4 linked regions of the Homo sapiens genome follow. The protein of the gene in region 4 interacts with the protein of the main gene of each other region in a biochemical or structural test. Each region holds a gene or a part of one and is shown on either strand. Other genes may lie near its edges.

Region 1 (7,033 bases), on a different chromosome or scaffold from region 4:
GTAGTGCACACCTGTAGACCCAGCTACTCAGGGGGCTGAGACATGAGAATCCCCTAAACGCAGGAGGTGGAGGTTGCAGTGAGCTGAGATCATGCCACTGCAGTCCAGCCTGGGTGACAGAGCCAGACTTTGTCATTAAAAAAAAAAAAAACAAAAAAACTATTACCTATAAGGCAGCTGTGCAGCTGTGTATGGCAGTTGTCTAAATATGTGGATAAAACAATCTTAAGTACAAAAGCTAACAAATAGAGAAAAGCTAAATGGAATTAGAGAACCACGTTATGTTACCAGTGCAATAATAGAAATACATTTTATTTGCATCATAAATAATTGCTCTTTAGTTAGAGAATAAGATTTATTGACCTTATACATTAAGAGATGTCAACATTTATTTCAAATCTGATATTTCAAAGTAAATGGAATTTTAAGTCAAGTCTAATATAGCTCCATAGCACAGTGCCAAAGCTCAGTGTTTGTTTTTGTGATCACTGTTGTTTGCTGCAAAAAAAAAAACAGCAAATACATTATTTAGGTTTGCCTAAAATTATGATTCAGAAGAGATGACAGAAAGTATCAAGTTCAATCCATTAAGTTTCCAAGTGAGGAGTATAAAGACTGAGTCTCCTGGCCAAGGTCACAAAGCCAAACTAGGACAAAGGGACAGACCATCTGACTTCTACTCCAGCACTCTTCCCACCCCAATTCAATACTCACCTCAACACTGTAACAGCTAGAGCACATTATTTTCAACCAACACTGAAGCAAACAATGCTCCAGTACTGTATTAAGGCCATTTGCACATTTTTAGCTATGCTCCAGAGAAACAAAAGTGTGATAAGTGAAGGAATGAGAAGGAATTCTTATCTTTTCTCAGGAGCTTATATCATATAAAAGGTTAGAAACGAATACTATTTCATAAGCTTTCAGGAGCGTTGTGTTTAAAGACACTCTGAGAGTCAAGAAAAACTTTACAGGAAATTATACACAACTTAAATAAATAGAATTTTCACATAAAATATGCAAATGGAGCATTTTGAGTGCTCCATTATCAAAACTTACTATTTACTTTACAGTAACCAAAAAAAGATGGAAGAAAAAAGAGAGAAAACCTAGCTGCCTATTTATTAAAACGTGTGTAAAACATGAACATGCCTACCAATACCTACCAAATATTTGTTATTAAATATTGCTTCTTACAGCTCTATACCTAATAACTGGCATATAGTGGGCACTTGAGTGTTTCATAATAAATTCTCTACTCTCTGTTAGTATCATCCAGTATTATTCTTGAATATTATGGTTGTACATCAGTCACTAAAATGCTGCTACTTGTAGAAGAAAACAATGCATACGGTCTGTATCAAATGCAAACGTTTCCAAGGCTAGAACAGTTTACATTATGTGTATATGTGTATCAATATATTTGTGTGTCTCTGTGTATGTGTATATGTATTCATTTGCTCTCCCTATATATGTATACATGTATATGTATGGTTGTATGGCATGTATTTTTAACATTAATTTTACCTAAGGATCTTATGTTATGGAACAGTGATTTTCCAGCTTTCCTTACAGCAATTTATAATATGAAAAAGATTTTACATTACAACCTAGTACACACACACACACTAAAACAAATTTCATGAAACAACACCCTTACTATATGCAAAGCACTAATATTTTCTATTCCATTTTAAAAAGTGGATGTTTATTATTCACTAAACTGTTTGGAAACTCATAAAAGAGAAAAAAAAAGATACTGGGAAGGTGTACACCTTAGTTTGGCATCCATTTCTTAGAAATAACCTACAGTCAATAGATACCAACTGGAAAATACCAAAATGAAGTCTACAAACTATTAACCATCATTCATTCAAAAGTGCTGTTGAGCACCTGAAAAGGCTGGGTCATAAAACAAGTCCCCACTTGGGAGGCTAAGGCAGGTGGATCACCTGAGGTCAGAAGTTTAAGACCAGCCTGACCAACATGGTGAAACCTTGTCTCTACTAAAAATACAAAAAATTAGCTGGGTGTGGTGGTGGGCGCCTGTAATCCCAGCTACTTGGGAGACTGAGGCAGGAGAATTGCTTGAACCCAGGAAGCAGAGGTTGCAGTGAGCCGAGATCGCGCCACTGTACTCCAGCCTGGGCGACAAGAGCAAACTTCATCTCAAAAAAAAAAAAACAAAAAAAAAACCAAAAAAAACAAGTACCCACAATTTAAAAGGAGTCAAATAATAATAGAATTTGTTCTCTGACCATAATGGAATTAGAAATCAACAACAGAAAGCTATCTGTAAAATCTCCAAACATATGGCAAATAAATAACGTATTTCTAAATAATCCAAGGGTCAAAGAAGAGATAAAAAGGAAAACTAGAAAATATCTTTAAATTTAAGTGAAAACAAAATACAGCAAAATTTGGGAGAAGCAAAAACACAAGCCAGAGATTTCCTGGTTTAAGAGAAGAGAAGAAAAATGAACCCAGACCATTTGTTAGGTCCACTTGGTTTTCTCTAGACAATCCAACCATACTACTCCCAAACTCTGCTCGCATAAGGAGGGTGGCCACCTAGAATGAGAACAATCAGATTATTATCTGAGGAAGCTTAAGGTGAAGGAACCAACTCCTCAGCTCACCCCCACTGGAGAAGTTTCTTAAGTCTGAAAAAAAACCCAGGAATCTAAATAAGAACTGTGGTGTCACTAAAAGAGATGAGCCATACAAACGGGACCATATGAATAGAGGACAGTGGGAAATACATCCAGAAAGAGGTAAGACAAGAGGATGCAGAGCATGATGGTGGAATGGACAGCACTAGACTGTATGCTTCTAGATAGCAGCTTCCTCCCCATACTAAGGACAATCCTGGAACACAACAGCCTGTTATTGTCTAATGTGTGAAACTGAACCTTCACAGATTCATCTCAGAACCAAATTAAGCACAGAAAAACCTTAGCTTCTCAGAGACCATCAAGACCAAGATGGGCCAGAAATAAAACCTGTCCTGCCTTCAGACACATGTGCTAAGGTGGCCTGAGGACCTACCCCTCCAATTCCCAAACTGCAAATATGGTCATATTATATATTCTAGTATCATTTATTCCAGCATTTCACAGGAGAGGAGAGAGGATAAGTATCTCAATTCCTGTTGTTAATTCAATGTAATCAGTTTATTCACTATTAAAAAGGCAGGGACTATTACATTAGTAGATGACCATTAACTCAGTTTTATGGCTAAATATTAGGTTTATCATTTCTATTAGTAGCACTCATTAAATGAAAATAAAGGGCCCATATGTTTTCTATGCGTATTTCAGGGAACTAAAGCGAGTAAGGACGCTATTTTGCTTTCCTGGAGGCAATCCCACATCCTGCTAGGTTTGGTTTTCATATGTGCCTGGCTTCTTAAAATAGGCATAAACAGCTTTATTTAGTTCTAGGCTATTTATTTCCACAGAGAAGAAATCTCAGAACTTTTTAACTGTCATAGGTTACCTCATTTTTTTATACCTCTATTGCGATGAAGAAAGAAAAATACAGTATCAAGGACAAAAGAAAGACTGAGCTTAATTACAAAGATTTAAAAAAAAATTTACATCGTGGCTTATTAGAGAAAGAACACTATCTCGCTCTCATCTCAAGGAAAACCATTTATCCCAAAATGCATAAATACCGTGCTTCTTTAAGTTGTATCATTCTTTCTAGAAAGAACTGGAGTCTTGGATTTAATCTCATAATATGAACAGTTTACTACTCAAAACCACTACAGGAACTAAATGACTCTGTCAATTCAAAAAGTTATCTCAAATAAAAACTTCACAATGCAATGATACTTTTGACAGAGCATTTATGAACTACAACCAATGTTTCAAAATCCTTTTGGAGGAGAGAAATTCAAAGTGATGAAACAAAGATGATCAAAGTTATATTACTGATTTACAATGTTAAACGATCTCAGCATGTGTTACTTTGGAGCAGAGATTTGCGAAGCACAATCAACACATTTGAGCAATGTGTCAGTGAAAATGATCAAATATGCCAAGGTCTTAATTATAACACCACTTTACATTTGTATAGAACATTCCAGTTTGCAAAGCACTTATATCCCATAAACCCATTTGACTCTATGTCTTCCAGTTTAAGTACAATAGATACGAGTTCATGTGGATAAGAGAAGCTATGTACTGAAGTGGTTAAGAATATGGAATTACATAAGACACATTAAATTTAATTTTGCTTGCTTCTACTTCCCGTTTTAAAAACGTGGCTACTAGGAAATTTAAAATTAAAATGTAGCTCACATTGTATTTCTATTGGATAGCATTGTTCAGTCAGTTTATTGACAGATTTTATTTGCTATCCTAGGGGGCACAATCATTGGCATATAAAAAGATTAAGACAAGGAAATAACACTCTCTCCACTAAAGGATTTGACATTTTAAGTGAAGTGTCACAGGTTCAGTAATAATATTACAGCCAAGCTTAAAAGCAAAATAAAAAGTAAAGTCATACAAAACTTTGTCAGGGAATGTGGCTGTTCTCTTCTATAAACAGATTACTGATATTAAATTATGGAAAGTGATTTAAGAAACAATGTTACCATCTTTAAAAGCCCACAAATTTGCTCTGCTGAACAAGGAGGAAAATGCTCTGCCCATGGTCTGGTTTCTAGAACCTGAATGTAAAGACAGAATAAGGCAAGTAGTACTCTGATATCGTTTACTCCTTCATTTTACAGAGAAAGAAAATGAGTCTTAGCCTGACTAGGTGGCTTATCCAAAATGTCATCATTTCAAAATTTAATCAATATAAAAATGTTTATAAATATCTCATTAGTAACAATTATTTAGATTTGTATACTAGGTCTTCAAATTCCAGTACATATTTTACACTTCAGCACATCTCAATTTGGATACTAAATTTTCGTCAGCAATATTTGATCTATATTTAGATTTCATAAAGCTCAAGGTTGAAAACTAAATTTTCATACCCAATTTGTTTCCATGTGGCTACTGGCTACATTAGACAGAAAGCTTTATAGTATATCTGGTGAGTTCAGTAATCTCAGTGAATGCTCTCTTCAACATCCAAAAACTATCATTCTCTCCTAAGAAGTGGAAGAGAAGGATCCTTGACTCTCTCTTCAGATAGGCAGTTTGGTAGCTTTCAGTAGCGATATGTAACTGCAACTATTTTTGTGTTAACTGGGCATGAGAAGGTATTAAATAAAAGATTCTAAGACTGAAAAAAAAAAAAAGGAATGTGGAATTGAAGCCAACTGTTTGTTTTGGAATCGTAGCATTGTCACTTACTAGATAATGTGATCATGAGTAAACTACTCAATATTTCCCTGCCTTAGTATCATCATCTGTAAAATGGAAATAACACTGTTTCTACCTCTTGGGTATACTAAGAATTAAGTCAATTAATATATGTCAAGTACTTAGAAGGCAGAGTAACGATTACAAACACCCTGGTTTTTGAGATCAGCAGCCTCATATGTATGGATATCCATACATATCCATTGTATGGAAATGTATGGAAAATATGTACTAGCCTCATTGTACGAAGCTAGTAAGCCACACAGCCAGGAATAAAAACCAGACCTTTGGCTGCGTGAGGTGGTTCACGCCTGTAATCCCAGCACTTTGGGAGGCTGAGGCGGGTGGATCACCTGAGGTCAGGAGTTCGAGACTAGCCTGGCCAACATGGTGAAAACCCATCTCTACTGAAAATACAAAAATTAGCCAGGTGTGGTGATGCAGGCCTGTAGTCCCAGCTACTCAGGAGGCTGAGGTGGGAGGGTCACTTGAGCCTCAGAGGCAGAGGTCACAGAAAACCGAGATTGTGCCACCGCATTCCAGCCTGGGTGACAAAGTGAGACCCTGTCTAAAAACAAAAAAAACTCAGACCTCCTTCTTCCATTTGATGCTCCGTCCATAGAGGGCTGGGTTAAGTATCCTAAAGTTTTCTAGACTGACATAAACAGTTTAACATAAAATTCTACAAATCAAAAAAATTCAGCAGCTCAAACATTTATCAAATTTGATTTTAATCTATGTCTCTCTATATATGTTTCAGATTACATTGATTATTAAAAAACAAAAACAACTAATGTTCCATTTGGGGGCCAGAATTACACACTAAGGAATAGTTCTCTGAGTTGCTATGTTTGTAAAACGGAACTCTATTGCCTCACTTTTCAAAAGACAAAAATGTAAATAAACTTATCACATCACATCACATCACATCACATAATGCTAGTATGATGTTCATTACCTCAAATTCTTTATCAAATAAAATCTATGATGATGACAATGACTGTTTTAGGATTTCCTTTTTTTTGCCCTTTAGTTTTCAAAACATTTGGTATTGGGATATTAACACCTGTAATTTAAAAAATAATCCTCCCCAAAAAAAGTGTTTCAAGTAATGAAAATAGTATTGATAGAAGAAACAACTTAGAAATTACTTCTAGAAAATAGATACCTAGGTGAAAAACTGTCCTCCTCTTTTCAGACATGTTTTAGGTATCTTTCCTTAGACTTTGTTCAAACTTTTTTTCTTTTAATGATTTAGGTGACTGCGATAACATCTTTCACTGTTATTTAAAAATAGGGCATGGGTGTGTAAATTTATGAGCTGGAATGCAAAACTGGCACACTAAATCAGAGCATTAAATCATTTAGTATATTCTAGTATAGTTAGTTTATTCTACTATAAAAATATATTTTAAGCATTGATATCTCCATGCTCTGTCTTTACATATAATTTTAATCCAATCATCTTTATTCTTTTTCATAGTGAAGAAATGTGAAATCATGAACTTTTTAACACTCTCAAATAGCCAAGCCAATTAAGAGATTATTGGCCGGGTGTGGTGGCTCACACCTATAATCCTAGCACCTTGGGAGGCCGAGGTAGGTGGATTGCCTGAGCTCAGGAGTTCGAGACCAGCCTAGGCAACACGGTGAAACCCCATCTCTACTAAAATACAAAAAATCAGCGGGGCATGGCAGCATGCGCCTGT
Region 2 (7,033 bases), on a different chromosome or scaffold from region 4:
TTGCAAGTTGTAATATTTGTGCATAAGTCTGGGAAAGGAGTGTGGAGAACCCTCTCTGAAATAGGAAGTATGGAAGGATTCCTTGTGTTAATACACTGATTTAAATTAAATGCTTCTGAACTTCAGTCCTTGTTTAAAAGAATGATTTAATCTCGTGCTTTGTGATGTTAGATTTCTTAAGCTTTGAGTGTTTTTACCTTTAATTCTGACATGTATGAAAATTTGTAAACAGGTTTTATGGTTTAGTCTTGTGTGAGAAGTTTGTTCGATTGTATTTTCGACTACTTTTTCCCTTATATGGCCTTTTATCCCATTAGTTGTTCATTAGAAAAAGGCAAATTTATGGTCATGAGCAGTTGACACTGGGGATATGTTTAAAACCATTGTTTTTATTTTACTGCTTTTGTCTTAAGACAAGGCTTTTAGTGTATTTCACTACAGCTGCAGTTGAAAGTTGGCACAAAGCTTTCCCTACCATATCACTCTTCTCCCTTATTAAATGTTAGTCCTTGAACATTTAGTATAATTTATTTTCAAGTTAAACTCTTTTCCCTTTTTGGCATAGTCATTCGTGAAGGCAGTGGGACTGCCAGTCATTCTTTACATTTTTCATACTGTAATTCCTTTAACTTTTATATATTAATAGGTTTCTAACTGATCTTTTTCACCCTGAAATAGTTGGCTCTTGTCTCTTACCCACAGGATCTGCATTGGAGATTTGTGAGACCTGTATTTCACAGAATTTTTTTATTCATCCTGCTTTCGCTTATTTAATATCGCCAATCCACGTGATTCTTAGTTTTGGGCCATATAGATGTAGGATGGGCAAAGATAGTTTCTTCTGTCCATTCTGAATACTATACAATCTTTTTTGGCCTTACTATCTTTTTGTGTAGTTTCTTATTTTGCTACCTAAGCAAGTCGGAATTTTATTGTTACTAGAAAAATAAATTGTGGATCAAGTCAGTAGCTAATGAAGACTTTTAACAAGTTCACCCCCTTTCTTTTGAAAGGAACTTTTTCAGGGTCTTTCTCTGTCACTTAGTTTGGGGTACAGTGGTGTGATCATGGCTCACTGCAGCTTCCACATCCTAGGCTCAAGCAGTCCTCCCACCTCAGCCCCCTGAGTAGCTGGGACTACAGGCATGACTACGCCCGGCTAATTTTTTTTTCTTCAGTATTGTTAAGTGAGGTAGGGTCTCACTATTTTGTCCAGGCTGGTCTCAAACTCCTGGGTTCAAAGGATCCTCCTTTCTCAGCCACCCAAAGTGCTGGTTTTACAGGCGTCAGCCACCATGCCCGGCTGGAACTATCTTTTCAAATAACTCCTGCTAAGGATTGTAGCTTAGTGTGGGTGCTTTAGTACTGAACCTCCTTGGAACTTTTGCATTATTTATCTAAAGCATTATAGCAGTGAGTCTAGAGCCAGAAAGAGTGCCTCTTTTATGATATGCATAACAAAAAAAAATTTTTTTTTTTTTTGAGATGGAGTCTCACTCTTTTGCCAGGCTGGAGTGCAGTGGCACGATCTCAGCTCACTGCAACCTCTGCCTCCTGGGTTCAAGCGATTCTCTTGCCTCAGCCTCCCGAGTAGCTGGGATTACCGGCGTGCGCCATGAAACCTGGCTAATTCTTTTTGTATTTTTAGTAGAGACAGGGTTTCACCATGTTGGCCAGGCTGGTCTTGAACCCCTGACCTTAAGTGATCTGCCCATCTCAGCCTCCCAAAATGTAATCCTAATTAGAGGCCTGAGCCACCACTCCTGGCCAACCTTTTATAGTTTTGATTTTATTAAATAATTTGATTGAGGTAATGAAATATAGATGTGTTCCATTTTTAGAAAACTCCAGTCTGATAATTTAGAAAGTATTTGTTGTATACTTAAAGTTTTCCTTATTAGGAACATCTTTATTAGACTCAACACTGACATATATATATATATATTTTTTTTTTTTGAGACTGAGTTTTGCTCTTATTGCCCAGGCTGGAGTGCAGTGGAGCGATCTCGGCTCACTGCAACCTCCGCCTCCTGGGTTCAAGCGATTCTTCTGCCTCAGCCTCCTGAGTAGCTGGGATTACAGGCATGCGCCACCATGCCCAGCTAATTCTGTATTTTTGGTAGAGACGAGGTTTCTCCATGTTGGTTAGGCTGGTCTCAAACTCCTGACCTCAGGTGATCCCGCTCACCTCAGCCTCCCAAAGTGCTGGGATTACAGGCCTGAGCCACCACACCTGGCCTACACTGACTTACATTAAAGAAACTCTTCAAAACCTTTTTTTTTTTTTTTTAAGAGATAGGGTCTCACTTTGTTGCCCAGGCTGGAGTGCAGTGGTGTGATCATAGCTCACTGCAGCCTGAAACACTTGGGCTCAAGGGATCCTCTTGCCTCACCCTCCTGAGTAGCTGGGACTGCAGGTGCATACCACACTCGTTTTAATTTAAAAAAAAAATTGTTTATGCAGAAAGGGTCTCATAGGCCAGGCTGGTCTCGAACTCCTGGCTTCAAACAATCCTCCCACCTTGGCCTCCCAAAGTGCTGGTGTTACAGATGTGAGCTACCACACCCAGCCAAATAATTTTTTTTTTAATAAGAGAATATGCATTATTTCCTATGCTTCATTTGTTTTGCAATGAATGAATCTATTTTCTGCCTTCCCTCTTCCCCCTAAAAAAACAAACCAGACTTAGCCTAGATCTGGCAATGTCATTTAGATATTTTATTTCTTTTTTTTCTTTTTCTTCTTCTTATTAATTTTTTTTTTTTTTTTTTAGCTGAGTCTCGCTCTGTTGCTCAGGCTGGACTGCAGTGGTGTGATTTCGGCTCACTGCAACCTTTACCTCCTGTGTTCAAGCAGTTCTCGTGCCTCAGCCTCCCAAGTAGCTGGGATTACAGGCGTGCACCACCATGCCTGGCTAATTTTTGTAATTTTTAGTAGAGATGGGGTTTTGCCATGTTGGCCAGGCTGGTCTTGAACTCCTGGCCTCAAGTGATCTGCCCACCTTGGCCTCCCAAAGTGCTGGGATTACAGATGTGAGCCAGTGTGCCCAGCCTATTATTATTATTTTAGAGACAGAGTCTCGCTATGTTGTCCAGGCTTGTCTTGAACTCCTGGGCTCAAGTAATCCTCCCGCCTCAGCCTCCCAAAGCACTGCGATTATAGGTCTGAACCATTGCACCCAGCCTATTTTATGACTCTTTAATTGGTAAAATATAGTTGAAAAAAAATTTTTTTTTTTCCTAGATGGAGTCTTGCTCTGTTGCGCAGGCTGAAGTGCAGTGGCGCGATCTTGGCTCACTGCAACCTCTGCCTCCCGGGTTCAAGCAGTTCTCCTGCCTTAGCCTCCCAAGTAGCTGGGATTACAGGTGCGTGCCAGCACGCCCGGTTAATTTTTGTATTTTTAGTGGAAACGGGGTTTCACCATGTTGTCCAGGCTGGTCTCAAACTCCTGACCTCAGATGATCTACCCGCCTTGGCCTCCCAAAGTGCTGGGATTACAGGCATGAGCCACCGCGCCTGGCTGAAAAAATTTTTTTAGGAAAATGATTGTTTGCCTTTTTGAGACAGGGATTCTTTTGAGAAATTGAAGAATTTTCTCAGAGAAAATGGGTACACGTAAACTAATTTTATGTATCTTTTTCAGAGGGTTTACTGCCGATGAGCTAAGAATCCTCTTGTAAGGTATTTGGATAGGCAACTTAAAGACAATTTTAAACAGCTCCTTTAAAATTATAAAACGAATGCTCTTTTATTCCCCCATTTCTCTCAGTTAACTTTGAAACTACCTCTTAGGGCATTTAGCTGTCTCTTTCTGGAAGATGAAGTTGTCTTGAGTACTGGGTGAACTAAGGTAACGTTATAAATGGAAACACAGTTAAGGTCTAAGGGTTTTGGAAACTAAATGAAGTTTCACTTTTTGTTGTTTCTCAGAACATTTTTCAAACCAAATATGATGCCTTAGTTTTTCATAGAATATGCTTTTATCCTGTTTAGTTGATTACAAGATGCATATTTTTCTACCTTTTAACTTCTTTTTGATTAAGAAATTTCTTAGATGGCCAGGTGTGGTGGCTCATTCCTGTAATCCCAGGACTTTGGGAGGCCGAGGCGGGTGGATCACCTGATGTCAGGAGTTCAAGACCAGCCTGGCCAACATGGTGAAACCCGGTCTCCACTAAAAATACACAAATTAGCTGGTGTGGGCCGGGCGCGGTAGCTCATGCCTGTAATCCTAGCACTTTGGGAGGCCGAGGCGGGCGGATCACGAGGTCAGGAGATGGAGATCATCCTGGCTAACGTGGTGAAACCCCATCTCTACTAAAAAAATACAAAAAAATTAGCCAGGCATGGTGGTAGGCACATGTAGTCCCAGCTACTTGGGAGGCTGAGGCAGGAGAATGGCGTGAACCCGGGAGGCGGAGCTTGCAGTGAACTGATATCGAGGCACTGCTCTCTAGCCTGGGCGAGAGAGCGAGGCTCTGTCTCAAAAAAAAAAAAAAAATTAGCGGGTGTGATGGTCCGCACCTGCAGTCCCAGCTACTTGGGAGGCTGAGGCAGGAGAATTGCTTGAACCCAAGAGGTGGAGGCTGCAGTGAGCCTAGATCATGCCAGTGTACTCCAGCCTGGGCAACAGAGTGAAGCTCTGTCTCAAAAAAAAAAAAAAAAAAAATTCTTGGAATCCATGAAGTCTTGTAATTGCCATCAGCCAAGTGGTACTTATAACCTAGTTGTGAGAGACCATTTCATTGAAATCTTTTGGTAAATTTTTTTTTAAATACCAGTTTCAATGTCATAGATTTGCTAAAATAAGGATTATTTCTTCCTGGATTGAAGGATTTAGGTCCTAATTAATACTCTGCGTTGATTCTCCTTTTTTCACCTTTTGTGTCAGGAAAAATTTTTATTGAGGACTCATTAAAGGAAAAGCAAATTGTAGGAAAAGTCACTTCCTTAAAGATAGTAAGTGAAAGTATTAGGACAATGATAACCTTAGAGCTTTTAAGAATGATCGGCCAGGCGGTCGCCTGTAATCCCAGCACTTTGGGAGGCAAACAACAAAAACAAAAAGAATGATCTTCATAAAAGCAAAGCTTTTTTTTTTTTTTTTTTTGAGACAGAGTCTCTGTTACCCAAGCTGGAGTGCAGTGGTACAATCTTGGCTCACTGCAGCCTCCATCTCCTGGGTCCAAGCAATTCTCCTCCTCAGCTTCCCGAGTAGCTGGGGCTACAGGCGTGTGCCACCATGCCAGACTAATTTTTGTATTTTTAGTAGAGATGGGGTTTCACCATGTTGGTCAGGGTGGTCTCAAACTCCTGACCTCAGGTAATCCACCCACCTCGGCCTCCCAAAGTGCTGGGATTACAGGCATGAGCCACCACACCTGTCCAAAAGCAAAGCTTTTAAAGCTTTAAGGCTAGTTAGACCATTTTTCAACATAATGATAAAATGTTCTGTTCCATCTTTCCAACTTAATGGTCAGTTGGAGACACGTGAGAGAAAGGAGACCATCCAGCAAATTAGGCTACCTCTGATAATCTAGTTATGGAAAAATAACAGTGAGGAAAAGGTATAAATTCAGAGTTTAGGACTACAGATTTCCATCTTGCTTAAAGATTATATTGAAAAGGTTTAATTCTTTTATGTTTCTGAACTTCTTTTGAACTGCTTCACATACGACTACAGAGATATCTGAGTTGGTTGGATGCAGTGGCTCATGCCTGCTCACACCTGTAATCCCAGCACTTTTGGGAGGCGGAGGTGGGCAGATCACTTGAGGTCAGGAGTTCAAGACCAGCATAGCCAATATGGTGAAACCCCATCTCTACTAAAAATACAAAAAGTAGCCGGGTGTGGTGGCATGCGCCTGTAGTCCCAGCTACTTGGGAGGCTGAGGCAGGAGAATCGCTTGAACCCAGGAGGTGCAGGTTTGCGGTGAGCCAAAATCTTGTGCCACTGCACTCCAGCCTGAGCAACAGAATGGGACTCTGTCTCAAAAAAAAAAAAAAAAATCCTACAGAGATTCCTGAGTAAAATTTAACCTCTTTGATTGTGTTAATATCAACTTTATTCAGCAAGAAATTGTTATTCAGAGATTATGCTTATGTACCTCAAAATTAGTTGACTCTGAAGTGAATGGAATGATAGATACTAAGTTGAAGAGGTAAATTTAGTTCACATCACCAAGGTTTGATGTTACTTAAATGATCTTCCACATGATAATTGGAAAATTCAGGTGTTGGAATATGTATTTAAGATGCAAAGTGGCTAGGAGTGGTGGCTCACGCCTGTAACCCCAGCACTTTGGGAGGCCGAGGCAGGCGGATCACGAGGCCAGGAGATTGAGACCATTCTGGCTAACACGGTCAAACCCCGTCTCTACTAAAACTACAAAAAATTAGCAGGGCATGGTGGCACGTGCCTGTAGTTCCAGCTACCCGGGAGGCTGAGGCAGGAGAATGGCTTGAATCCAGAGGCGGAGAGGTTGCAGTGAGCTGAGATCACGCCATTGCACTCCAGTCTGGGCAACAGAGTGAGACTCTGTCCCCTGCCGCCCCCTCCAAAAAAAAAGAAAAGTGAATAGTCCACTTTAAACACCTTTATTTGATTTAGTAACAAATACATATAAAAATGTTTTGGTTATTGGGTGGGTGCAGTGGCTCACGATTATAATTTTTACCCAGCACTTTGGGAGGCAGAGGTGGGCAGATCACCTGAGCTCGGAAGTTCGAGACCAGCCTGGACAGCGTGGTGAAACCCCACATCTACTGAAAATCCAAAAATTAGCCAGGCATGATGTCGTGAACCTGTAGTCCCAGCTATCCGAGAGGCTGAAGCAGGAGAATCTCTTGAACCCAGGCCAATCGCTTGAACCCAGGAAGCGGAGGCTGCAGTGAGCCGAGATCGCGCCACTGCGCTCCAGCCTGGGCGACAGTGAGACTCTGCCTCAAAAAAAAATAAAAAGGTTTTGGTTATTGTCTTATTATTATTATTATTTTTTGACGCTGTTCGAATAAAAAAAAATTAGTCAAGCA
Region 3 (7,033 bases), on a different chromosome or scaffold from region 4:
TGTTAAAAACCAAAACAAACAAAACCCAAACAGCCACCGAATCTGAAATGAACCCTCTTCTTCTCCATCTTGTCCCTTCCTCAAGACCAAAAGCAACCATCTAAAAAGCAGGAGCAAGGCCCAGAGAGCAGGGGACCTTGATGTTGGGCCTGGCTCCACCACTGACTTCAGCCTCCTCATCTGTAAACAGAGGCCACTGGTGTCTGCTTTCCAAGATCCCTCACACAGCTCTGGAATTCTAGAGTATGTGTGCAGCAAGGGTCAGAAGGAGAAACTACACAGCCACCAGAAGCAACTTTCTTAACTTTCTGCTTCAAGGTTGAAAGAGAAGACAAGGGCTGGGTGCGGTAGCTCACGCCTGTAATCCCAGCTATTTGGGAGGCTGAGGCAGGCGGATCACCTGAGGTTAGGAGTTCACGACCAGCCTGGCCAACACCATGAAACCCCGTCTCTACTAAAAAATGCAAAAATCAGGCCAGGCACGGTGGCTCACGCCTGTAATACCAGCACTTCGGGAGGCCAAGGTGGGTGGATCATGAAGTCAGGAGATCGAGACCATCCTGGCTAACATGGTGAAACCCCGTTTCTACTAAAAATACAAAAGATTAGCTGGGTGTAGTGGCGAGCGCCTGTAGTCCCAGCTACTCGAGAGGGTGAAGCAGGAGAATGGCGTGAACCCAGGAGGCGGAGCTTTCAGTGAGCCAAGACTGTACCACTGCACTCCAGCCTGGGCAACACAGCGAGACTCCATCTCAAAAAAAAAAAAAAAATTAGCCAGGCATGGTGGCACACGCCTGTAATTCCAGCTACTCAGGAGGCTGAGGCAGGGAGAATTGCTTGAACCCAGAGGTGAAGGTTGCAGTGAGCCAAGATCGTGCCACTGCACTCCAGCTTGGGCGACAGAGCGAGACTGCGTCTCAAAAAAAAAAAAAAAAAAAAGGAAAGAGAAGACAAGAAGCAAGAATATTACATCTGAGACCTCAACTTCTCAATCAAGAGTTGCTTTCGGCCAGGCGCAGTGGCTCACATCTGTAATCCTAGAATTTTGGGAGGCCGAGGTGGGCGGATCACAAGGTCAGGAGTTTGAGACCAGCCTAACCAACATGGTGAAACCCCAGCTCTACTAAAAATACAAAAATTGGGGGCCGGGCATGGTGGCTCACGCCTGTAATCCCAGCACTTTGGGAGACCGAGGCAGGAGGATCATAAGGTCAGGAGATCGAGACCATCCTGACTAACATGGTGAAACCCCGTCTCTACTAAAAATACAAAAAAATTAGCTGGGCATGGTGGCGGGCACTTGTAGTCCTGGCTACTCGGGAGGCTGAGGCAGAAGAATGGCGTGAACCTGGGAGGTGGAGCTTGCAGTGAGCCGAGATCGCACCACTGCACTCCAGCATGGGCGCCAGAGCAAGATTCCATCTCAAAAAAAAAACAAAAAAAAACAAAAATGCAAAAATTAGCCAGGCGTGGTGGCGTGCGCCTGTAATCCCAGCTACTCAGGAGGCTGAGGCAGAAGAATTGCTTGAACCCGGGAGGCGGAGGTTGCAGTGAACCAAGATCACACCATTGTACTCCAGCCTGGGTGAAAGAGCGAGACTCCGCCTCAAAAAAAAAAAAAAAAAAAAGTTGCTTTCAAACCTCCACCCCTGCCCCAGTTCAGCACCTGTGGGAGCCTTCCATAGCACCTATGCTCATCTTTGGACACAGTGACTGTCACACTACACTGGATGTTTACAATATGCAAGGTAAATTTCTGAGATATTAGAAAGACAAATTTTGAGTTCAAGAGCTATTCAATTTTAAGCTGGGCACAGTGGCTCACGCCTGTAATCCTTTGGGAGGCTAAGGTGGGTGGATCGCCTGAGGGCAGGAGTTCGAGACCAGCCTGGGAAATGGAGAAACCCCGTCTCTACTAAAAATACAAAAATCAGCCGGGTATGGTGGCGCATATCTGTAGTTCCAGCTACTCGGGAGGCTGAGGCAGGAGGAATGGCTTGAACATGGGAGGCAGAGGTTGCAGTGAGCTGAGATGGTGCCACTGCACTCCAGCCTGGGTGACAGAGTGAGACTCCGTCTCCAAAAAAAAAAAAAAAAAAAAAAAAAAAAGCTATTCAACTTTGTTGGGAAAAGTAAACTTTTCTCTTTTTTCTTTCGAGAGTCTCGCTCTATCACCCAGGCTGGAGCGCAGTGGCACCATCTCAGCTCACTGCAACCTCCGCCTCCCGGATTCAAGCGATTCTCCTGCCTCAGCCTCCAGAGTAGCTGGGATTACAGGCATGCACCACCACACTCGGCTGATTTTTGTATTTTTTTTTTTTTTTTTTTAGTAGAGATGGGGTTTCGTCATGTTTCCCATGCTGGTCTCCTCAAGTGATCCACCCGCCTTGACCTCTCAAAGTGCTGGGATTCGGATATGAGCCACCACGCCCAGCCAAGTAAACATTTTTCTTTTTCCTTTTCTTTTTTTTTTTTTTTTTTTGAGATGGAGTCTTACTCTGTTGCCCAGGCCAGAGTGCAGTGGCATGATCTTGGCTCACTGCAACCTCTGCCTCCTGGGTTCAAGCAATTCTCCTGCCTCAGCCTCCCGAGTAGCTGGGATTACAGGCACATGCCACCACACCCAGCTAATTTTTTTGTGATTCTAGTAGAGACGGGGTTTCACCATGTTGACCAGGCTGGTCTCGAACTCCTGACCTCAAGTGATCCACCTGCCTTAGCCTCCCAAAGTGCTGGGATTACAGGTGTGAGCTACTGCGCCAAGCCAACATTTTTTGAGACAGAGTCTCACTCTGTCACCCAGGCTGGAGTGCAGTGGCACGATCTCAGCTCGCTGCAACCTCTGCCTCTCAGGTTCAAGCAATTCTTCTGCCTCCCCCTCCCTAGTAGCTGGGATTACAGGCACGCACCACCAGGCCTGGTTAATTTTTGTATTTTTGGTAGAGATGGGTTTTCACCATGTTGGCCAGGATTGTCTCAATCTCCTGACCTCATGATCCGCCCACCTCGGCCTCCCAAGGTGCTAGGATTACAGGCATGAGCCACCGCGCCTGGCCCCCAGCCAACATTTTTAAACAAACATTCACACAGCTGTCTCAGTAACTCTTTCTCCAACCTACAGAATAAGAGAGTACCACAGGTAAGAGAATGGGCTCTCAGTGATGAGGGTATGTCCAGGCAGACTGGCCCCAACCTGTCCCGAAAACACCTTTGCAATACCATCTCCTATCACTCCTCCAAATCCTCCCCTCCTGTCAGGCTGGTCACCTCCCTGCCCTGGAACATGTCTTGGTTATTCCCAATAATATCTACAAGTAGCTCACACTTACTATATGCCAGGCACTCTTCTAAGCAGTTGGTATATATTAACTCATTTAACCTTCACACACGGACGAAGTAACTAAGGCACAGAGAGGTAAAGTAACTTGCCCAGGGTCACTCAGCTAAGACATGGCAGGCCCAGGATTGAAACTCCAGAACCTGAGCTTTTAACTGCTATGCTGTAGTCTTCCTCTAAACAGCTTTGCTCTGAGCAAAAGCCCCTTCCTCCCTTTCTTATAGGGGTGGGGGGCTTGGGGAGGTTAGGCTTATTTATGTCCCCCAAGAACAGGCATGATGAAGCTGGCCACAGGAGATACATGCAAAGCCCTTTCTGAGTGAGTGGCATGCCACTTCTCCTGGATAGCTGTAGCATCCAGGAGATATGTAGATCTGGCCCCTCAACCTAAAGGCTATGGCATCTCTGCCACCTGTCCTTAAATCCATCAGCACTGCCCTCAGTGACCCCTCTATAGAGAGGTAGCTCACCCTCCAAGGCTGGCCTGGCAGAGGGAGGTCTCCTAGCTCTGGAGGAACCAGGTGCACTGGACATGCCAATCTGGGGTAAAATCAAGCCAATGCCTCAACACTTCTGGAAAGCATCTCAGGGGCTGGCCTAACTAAAACCCAAAGCGGGACGGCACAAGGTCAGACGCAAGCAGCACTGGGGAGTAGGCAGATGGTCTCTGGGGCTCCTCAAAGCATTTCCCATAGGCACTGCCCACAGCCCTCCTGAGGGATGAGAGAGACTCAACCTCACTGGCCACCCAGTCCGTCTTCTTCAACTGCTGAAACCCTACTCGTGCTTAAAGGGCCAGGCCAAGTTCGACCTCCTCCTCAGTGTCAGAGGGGGTCTTTCCCTCTCCTGCAAGCCATTATTCAGGTGGCAGACATCTAGCACACAGTGGCCAGCCCAGGATTTCTTTGTTCCAGGTACGTGCCATTTTTCTCCTTTGTTGAGCTCCTCAAGGGCAGAGGAATTGCCCCTTGAGCTGAGTCTCAAAGGTCAAAAAGTTACCCTGGTACAGAGAAGAGACAGGGATGCCAATCACGAGATCCAGAGTGTGTGTGCAAAGCATGCTGTTTTTAGGGGACTCAACGGGCAAGTGGGGAGAGACAAGGCTGGTGAGACAAGACCTTGAAGGAAAAAGCTAAGGAATGTGCACTTGTAATCCAGAGTCCCAGCCTCATCCTCACCCTACTAAATTCTGCTCCAATCTCTGAGAGCAGGGCCTGCTCATGTGCACTTCTCTACTGCACACCACACCATACACTACTCTGATGCACTGCTGGTTAGGAGTAGTGTGGGACAGAGAGTGCGCTGACCAGTAAGGAGTTTAGATGAACCATTAAGGAGCTCGATGCAGGTGTCTACCACAAACAGGGATGGCCTGAACTGAGGCAGTGGGAGTGGCAGTGGCATTGGGAGTGGGAGTGGGGATGGAGAGAAGACAGGCAGAGAAGAGAGACTGAAGGCATAGTTCAGCAGAATCCGCCAGGTGACTAGACAAGGGAGGAAGAGCCGAGAAGGGCTCCGCTGGCGTTTTTTCCTTGAGCAACTGAGTAGACAAGTGAACCATTAACTAAGGTGGGACAGGAGGAGATGCATGGGGCCAGAGGGAGAGAGTCACAGGAGGAGCTAAGACTCAGATGCCTACAGATCTATGTGCCGTTCCCAAGAAAACTCTGGAAGTGGTTGGAGTCTGGCTCAGGAGGAACGTCTCTGTGGCTCTCTAATGTGCACAGTGTGTGCAGTGTGTGTGCAGTGTGAAGCTGCAAAGAAATGTGGCTCTCACATTTACTGCTGTAGCAAAGAATATAGAAATATCTTAAACGTAATAAATGTTCCAATAAAATGAGAATACTTTCAAGTGTCCTCTTATAATAAAATTTTAAAGCAACAGTCTCCTAATTTAGAGTTTTAACAAGATCAGAAAAGGCCCCAGTACCCTGAGACAAGAGTTTTTGTCTCAGGGTTTTCTTTTTTTTTTTTTTTTTTTGAGACGGAGTCTCGCACTGGAATGCAATGACACAATCTTGGCTCACCGCAACCTCTGCCTCCCGGGTTCAAGCAATTCTCCTGCCTCAGCCTCCCGAGTAGCTGGGATTACAGGCACCCACCACCACGCCCAGCTAATTTTTTGGATTTTTAGTAGAGACGGGGGTTTCACTATGTTGGCCAGGCTGGTCTCGAACTCCTGACCTCATGATCCGCCCACCTCGGCCTCCCAAAGAGCTGGGATTACAGGTGTGAGTCACCACGCCTGGCCTGCCTCAGAGTTTTCTAGTAAATACCTTAAAAGGTCCCAAATGTTGCAATAATTGAGTATACTCCTTCCCATCACCTGTCCCAAACATTTACAAAGAATACCATTAAGGGAGGCTGAAACAGTCCCAACTTACTGGAATGCATGAATTTAGAAAAAAAGACGCAACGTTTTTCTCAATTCACAAAGCCTCAGTGGATTCAGGACATTTACACTGGCATAACATCACATATAAAACTCCCCTCACCTCCTGAAACATGTGACATACTCATTGCTCTATCTCCTTAATCACCCAACCTCAGAATCTAAACCTATACTCAAAAGCAAACTACCTCACTGCTTAATACAACGAAACCCAAGGAATGAACTTTTAGAGGTTCCTCCTACTATGACTATGAACTGGGAGAAAATATAACAATATGAAGTTCTGAGTGAACATTTTTAAATAGCATTAGGCTGGGCGCAGTGGCTCACACCTGTAATCCCAGCACTTCGGGAGGCCTCGGCGGGCAGATCACCTGAGGTTAGGAGTTAGAGACCAGCATGGCAAACATGGTGAAACCTCCTTTCTAATACAAAATTAGCAGGGAGTGGTGGTGCACACCTATAGTATCAGCTACTTGGGAGGCTGAGGCAGGAGAATCGCTTGAACCTGGGAGGCAGAGGTTGTAGTGCACAGAGATCGTGCCATCGCGCTGAAGCCTGGGCAACAAGAGTGAAACTCCTTAACTCAACAGTTATGTCATGATAAGTAATAAGACATTACACACACACCCCTCTAAATCCACAGATTTCCCCTCTGAGAAAAGCCCTTCTGGGAAGCTACTCAACAGGAGGGCCCTTAGGGGAAATGTGTGCAGTGTGAAGCTGCAAAGAAATGATCAGATGGCAATCAGTTGCCTAAGCCACACATAAAGGTTTCACTTTTGGCTTTTGCAGCAATTTCCCCATCCTGATTGAAGCAATGGTTACAATCTGGTTGTAGCCAACAATGCTAAATTAGCTGCTTGCAAATTAAAATGTACTTAATGTTTTATTAACACTGTAATTCCTAAAAAGGCTTCTAAAAGAGGTTAAGCCTCCTGGCAAGTGCTTTTGAAATAAAAGACTTTATCATACTCACTTTGCCTAAAATAACTTCTCAGTGTAGTATATGTAAATCACTCTACTTTTAATAATGTGTTTTACACTATCTGCAGACAGTCCATTGTTACAAAGAAATCTTTGCTGTGGAATGTCCTAGAAAACATTTTTAACAGAAATCTAAAGTTCTTTAAGATGTAATTAATTTGATCATTCAACATTTGCTAGATTGCTATGCCTAAGGCACTGTTCCATGCACTAAGCCCCAACTTTTCACCAACGAAAATCACTTTATTACCACCCTATGTACTGAAAAGACTGTTTATCAACTTGTATCAATAATTTTTCTTCCTTTAAAAGAAAAA
Region 4 (4,833 bases):
TAAAAATCACGAAGTATGCCTGCAGGCACTGGCATTCGGCAGAGCTGTTTAAGACACCCCTGCAGCAAGGAAATTGAACTAAGAGCAGCACAGGCATTCCTGGTGCTGGGAACCATGACCACAAAAGGCTGCCCAGGGTCTGAGTGCTTTGAGCCAGGTGGGAGGGGATCTGCCCTAAGGACATAAGGCACGCTGGCCATGCCCTAGCAGCCTGGTCACCGTAACTTTCCTCTTCACAGAGCAAGGAGTTAGGACATGGAGAAGGTGAGAATTGAACCCAGCTCAAATTAACAGTCACATGGACCCAAGTACCTGCTCACTATGGCCTCACTGGTGCCTCCATCTCTTCCTAGGCAGAGAGGGCAGGAAGAGGTGGCAATTACATTTTCTTTGTCCAGAAAACTGGCAGGTGTGGTGGGGTTGAGCCCTCTGAGTTATCATCTGAACCAGACAGCTCCAGGAAGTCCCTTCCTTCCCTGGAACCAGCAGGGCAGGCGATGTGGGAGTTATTAATTCTTTATTAGGATTCAGGTTTCAAACAAGGTAGAAGGCAGTGGCAAGAGGGGTTCAGGTAGGGGGATGATGAGGGAACACCAGACTTGGCTAGTTGGGCCACTGCCAGAAGCCAAATGGGAACCCTGGGCTGGAAGGGGTGTGGAGAGGGGTGGACAAGGGGCCAGCCTAGAGGAGCAGACGGGGTCAGCGGATGGTGTATCGGACATAGGGAACCTCGACATCCTCGCCGCTCTCGTCGTTACAGCACAGCTCAAGCACCAGCGCCCGCACGTGGCGGCCCAGCTTTCGCTTCGACACACGGCTCACAATCTCTGTCATCCTGGGGATAGGGGGATGGGAGTATAGGGTCAGGAGGGCAGAAAGCAAGAGAGGATGGGCAGGTAGGTAGGGGCAGTGAACTGGAGTGGGACAGCTGGATGATGAGGCTCCCCAACCCATACAGGGCCTCCCCTAGCCTGGCCAGTGTCCAACTCACGGCTGATCCAACCGTTCCTTGAGCTTGGCAGCTGGCATGAAGAAGGAATAGAGCATGGACACGCCCTGGGACAGCATGGTGATCTCTAATTTGTGCTCTGTCTGGAGAGGGAGGGGGAACAGCAGGGTCATGGAGGTGGACAGGCCAGCAAGTCACCGTGTACACCTCGCCCCCTGAGGTGGGGTGACAGAGTAAGGGAGGGGCCTTACCTTAAAATAGTCGAGGAACTGTTTGAGGGTCATCTCCTCACCATTAGGCTGCAGCCCTTGTACCTCAAAGCGATCCCACAATGTCCACTCTTGGTTATAGTACTGCAAGACAAAGAGGGGAGTGTAAGATGGAGACCATCCCAGAGGGTCCAGCCCCCATCTGTCTCCATCCCCCCTACCCCCATGCAGACGTGTTTAGTCAGATCACAACCCTCTTTTGTTCGAAATCCTCTTGTGGTTCCTATCTCACCCTAAGCAATGAAATTCTGTTTTCTTCTCATCTCCTACCCTCCTCAATCTCACACTCACTCTGGGGACTTTGAATTCCTCCAACTTGCCAGGCACACCCCTATCTTGGTACCCTTTCAAGAACTGGTCCCTCTGCCTGGAATGTGTCCCCACTCGCCACCAAGCCTGCACAGTTTGTCCCCTTACATCCTCCAAGTCTGATCTCAAATGTCATCTTTTCAGCAAGGCCTTTTCTGACCATCCTACACAAAATCTCAAATACATCCCCTCGCCCCCTGGTATTCTCAAGTCCTCTTTATCTTTTTTTTTTTTTGAGATGCAGTCTCGCTCTGTCACCCAGGCGGGAGTGCAATGGCGCCATCTTGGCTCACTGCAACCTCCGCCTCCCGGGTTCAAGTGATTCTCTTGCCTCAGCCTCCCGAGTAGCTGGGATTACAGGTGCCTACCACTACGCCTGGCTAATTTTTTGTATTTTTAGTAGAGACAGGGTTTCATCATGTTGGCCAGGCTGGTCTCAAACTCCTGACTTCAGGTGAACCACGTGCCTCGGCCTCCCAAAGTGCTGGGATTACAGGCGTAAGCCACCACGCCCGGCCTCTTTTTATCCTTTTTTGATTCCAAAATCATTTAATAGGTTATTTATATAATCTACTTGAGGAACATAACTTAGAAGAGTCCCTGCACACAAAAGGTGCTCAATAAATATTTGAGTGAATTCATTAATGAAGCAAGCAAAGCACTTAAGTGTAGGAAGCGTCCAATAAATTTTGGCTGCCATTATTGTGTAGTTACTAATAATCTCCCAGGGCACAATTCAAATATCCCATCTTTTCGCACGTACTCAAATAATGTGATTAATGAATAAGTGAAAAAGGATACACAAAAAGGGTAGGTACACAGACAGAAACCCTCACCTGGTGACAGGGTATGACGTGAATCAGAACCAGATCTACACAGATACACCCCACCCAAACCCTGCTTCGGATGCAGGCCCCCACCTGGTGACGTGGTGCGGCAAGGGGTTCAGAGAAACCAAAGAAAGGCAGGGCCAAGTTGAGGAAACCATTCTTGTAGGAGTCAAGCTGTCGGTGCCCCTGCACAACCTTGTACAGCTCCAGACACACAAGGCCAACCACGGCTGCTGTGGTCGTGGCAATGGCTGGGATGATCTTCCCTGCAATCAGCTTGCTCTGAGAGACAGAAGGGACAAAAGAAGGTGGTAGTTAAGTACAAGAGCCTCAGGGTCTACAGAGGGGCTAAGTGTGGGTAACTCAAACCTGGAGGAGGGTGGAACATCAGATTTAGATTCCCCTCACCTTGTGCCGGTCTGCAGAAGGAATGTCATAGTTTTCTGCCCGGAGGTTGGATGCAGCCACGATGAAATCCATATGAAAGTTGCTGTCATCATCCTGTTATGAGTGGGGAGGGTGTGAAGGCAGTGGGGAGAGGATCAGATAAAGAAGATGTGTATCCTCCACTGCAATTGCCTGCTGGACTCTCCCAGATCACAAAGGGATGGCTGGGAACACCTACTCATTCAGAGCCATATGGCAGGCCCACAATCTGATCCCCACAAAGGCCCGGGGCTGGCTCCAGATACTCCTGTTTTCTCCAGCCTGTCTATGCTTTGCCCATCCTCCTTCCCTGTCCTGAGCCCCACCCCATACCTTCTCAAAGTCAATGGGGTACATCTTGAATCCAGGGAGCTTGTCTGGGCTGGGCAGAGTGGCTTTGAGCTCCTCTAGACGACTGTCATCTGCATGAAGAAAGGGACACTGTCAGCCCTTTAGATCCCAGGCTAAGGTCTGAGATGGAAATGAGAGCCCAGGGTGGGGCAAAAGGTATTCAGGTACAAAAAGGATTTGGAAAGGAGAGACATCCTGGGAGAGAAAAGGGGCAAGGAGGAGAGGTAGAGCAGAGCAGAATACAAACCTGAAAAACACAGAGAAAGAGCTGAGGCTATCAAGAATGATCTCTCTAGAGACACTAAGGAACGGAAATGAAAATGTTAGGAGAAAGTGGAGATGGAGAGATCAAGATGGGAGACGTAAAGATCTTGGGAAGAATGATGTAGAGCAAGATGGGGGGAACACAGAGGATACAGGGAGGAAAAGGGGAGTAAAAAAGATATATGGAGGGGAAGTTGGGGGGAATACACAGATGTGGACATAGAGGAAAGATATGGGGGGAGATGGAGAAGATATAAAAGGGGGAGAGTGGGGGTATATACAGAGGGCGAGGCAGGTGGGAGGAGAAAGATGGAAGAAATATATGAAGGTGATGAGAGCTATGGAAGGAAAGATTGGAAGACATACATAAAGGAACATGAAGGAGTAGACATTTCAGAAGGAAGATGGGGACCATGGAAGGGGAAATGGGAGGAGATCTATGGAGAGGAAGACGGGGGAGATATAAGGAAGGTAAATGTAGGGGGCGTTACAGAGCTACAGAAGCATCATATACAGAAGGGAGGGGTGGTGAAAAAATATGCAGATGGGGTGGGGTGGGGGTGTCAGTAAACCGCAGCCCCAAACTATGGAGGGTGAAGATGCACAGAGAAACATGCAGGTAGATGTACAGATGGGGGCGGATCTGGAAGGAGACAAGGCAGGAAAGTATCAAGGGAGAGAGACTGCTGGTAGAGATCATACCTCCTAGATGAACAGATCAAGAAGAAACAGAAGAAAGAACAAAACTAAGGGAAATACACAGAGCAAGAGTAAAACAGCAAGTTCTCCTGAGGGCCAGATAGTGGGAAGGAGGAGGAGGGAGGGAGATAATTTGCCCCAACCTACCCTCTTCATGTCAAAGGGAGGCTCAAAGGAAGGTGTGGGTAAACCTCAGGCCTGGGGTCACAGAGCAGAGCAGAACCAGGGGTAGAGGACTGGTGGGGAGGCTGGACTAGGCCGGGGACATGTGGGGTGACTCCTGGCCAACTGGCCAAACACCCTCACCAACAGAGGCATTGGCGCTCTGCAGCTCCTGGTCAGAAACATGGATCTTGACGCCAGACTTGGGGGTGAATTCGGGGACCTGCACAGACTGCAGGAATGTGGCCACAGCAGCTCGGTCCTGAGAGCCTGTCAGCCCGTAGGTCTGGGCAAACAGGTTGGCAGCAGCCATCACATAGTCCAGATGCAGGGGCTAGGAGAAGGCAGGGCAGGGAAGGGTGAGCACATCAGCCCTCGAGTGGGGAGCCGCCACCTCCTTCCCACCTATTCACCCTCCACCTGACCCCAGAAGACCCTAGAAAGGAGACTTACATTGTTGACATCAAAGGTGAGCGGGTGTGGACAGCGTTTGGGCCCAGACCAGAACGGCGCTCCTGAGCTTGTGAGCTAAGGGATGGAGAGATTTTTGAGAACAGGACCTGAGAGTGAAGGC

Evidence for each region.
Region 1: of the proteins of UBA1 (region 4) and UBE2D1, one has a biochemical effect on the other in vitro, tested with the Homo sapiens proteins (8 studies listed by BioGRID, with this or other methods).
Region 2: of the proteins of UBA1 (region 4) and UBE2R2, one has a biochemical effect on the other in vitro, tested with the Homo sapiens proteins (5 studies listed by BioGRID, with this or other methods).
Region 3: of the proteins of UBA1 (region 4) and UBE2L3, one has a biochemical effect on the other in vitro, tested with the Homo sapiens proteins (24 studies listed by BioGRID, with this or other methods).

Annotation. Positions count from the first base shown.
Region 1 is NC_000010.11:58,337,986-58,345,018, reverse strand, and holds part of UBE2D1 (ubiquitin-conjugating enzyme E2 D1), read right to left. Parts: intron 1-7,033.
Region 2 is NC_000009.12:33,820,153-33,827,185, forward strand, and holds part of UBE2R2 (ubiquitin-conjugating enzyme E2 R2), read left to right. Parts: intron 1-7,033. UniProt on the Homo sapiens protein: E2 ubiquitin-conjugating enzyme that accepts ubiquitin from an E1 ubiquitin-activating protein, and catalyzes its covalent attachment to other proteins by an E3 ubiquitin-protein ligase complex.
Region 3 is NC_000022.11:21,570,708-21,577,740, reverse strand, and holds part of UBE2L3 (ubiquitin-conjugating enzyme E2 L3), read right to left. Parts: intron 1-7,033. UniProt on the Homo sapiens protein: Ubiquitin-conjugating enzyme E2 that specifically acts with HECT-type and RBR family E3 ubiquitin-protein ligases.
Region 4 is NC_000023.11:47,210,796-47,215,628, reverse strand, and holds the end of UBA1 (ubiquitin-like modifier-activating enzyme 1), read right to left. Parts: intron 4,788-4,833; coding exon 4,713-4,787; intron 4,594-4,712; coding exon 4,404-4,593; intron 3,206-4,403; coding exon 3,117-3,205; intron 2,859-3,116; coding exon 2,766-2,858; intron 2,640-2,765; coding exon 2,448-2,639; intron 1,303-2,447; coding exon 1,201-1,302; intron 1,093-1,200; coding exon 992-1,092; intron 836-991; coding exon 700-835; 3' UTR 501-699; downstream 1-500. UniProt on the Homo sapiens protein: Catalyzes the first step in ubiquitin conjugation to mark cellular proteins for degradation through the ubiquitin-proteasome system.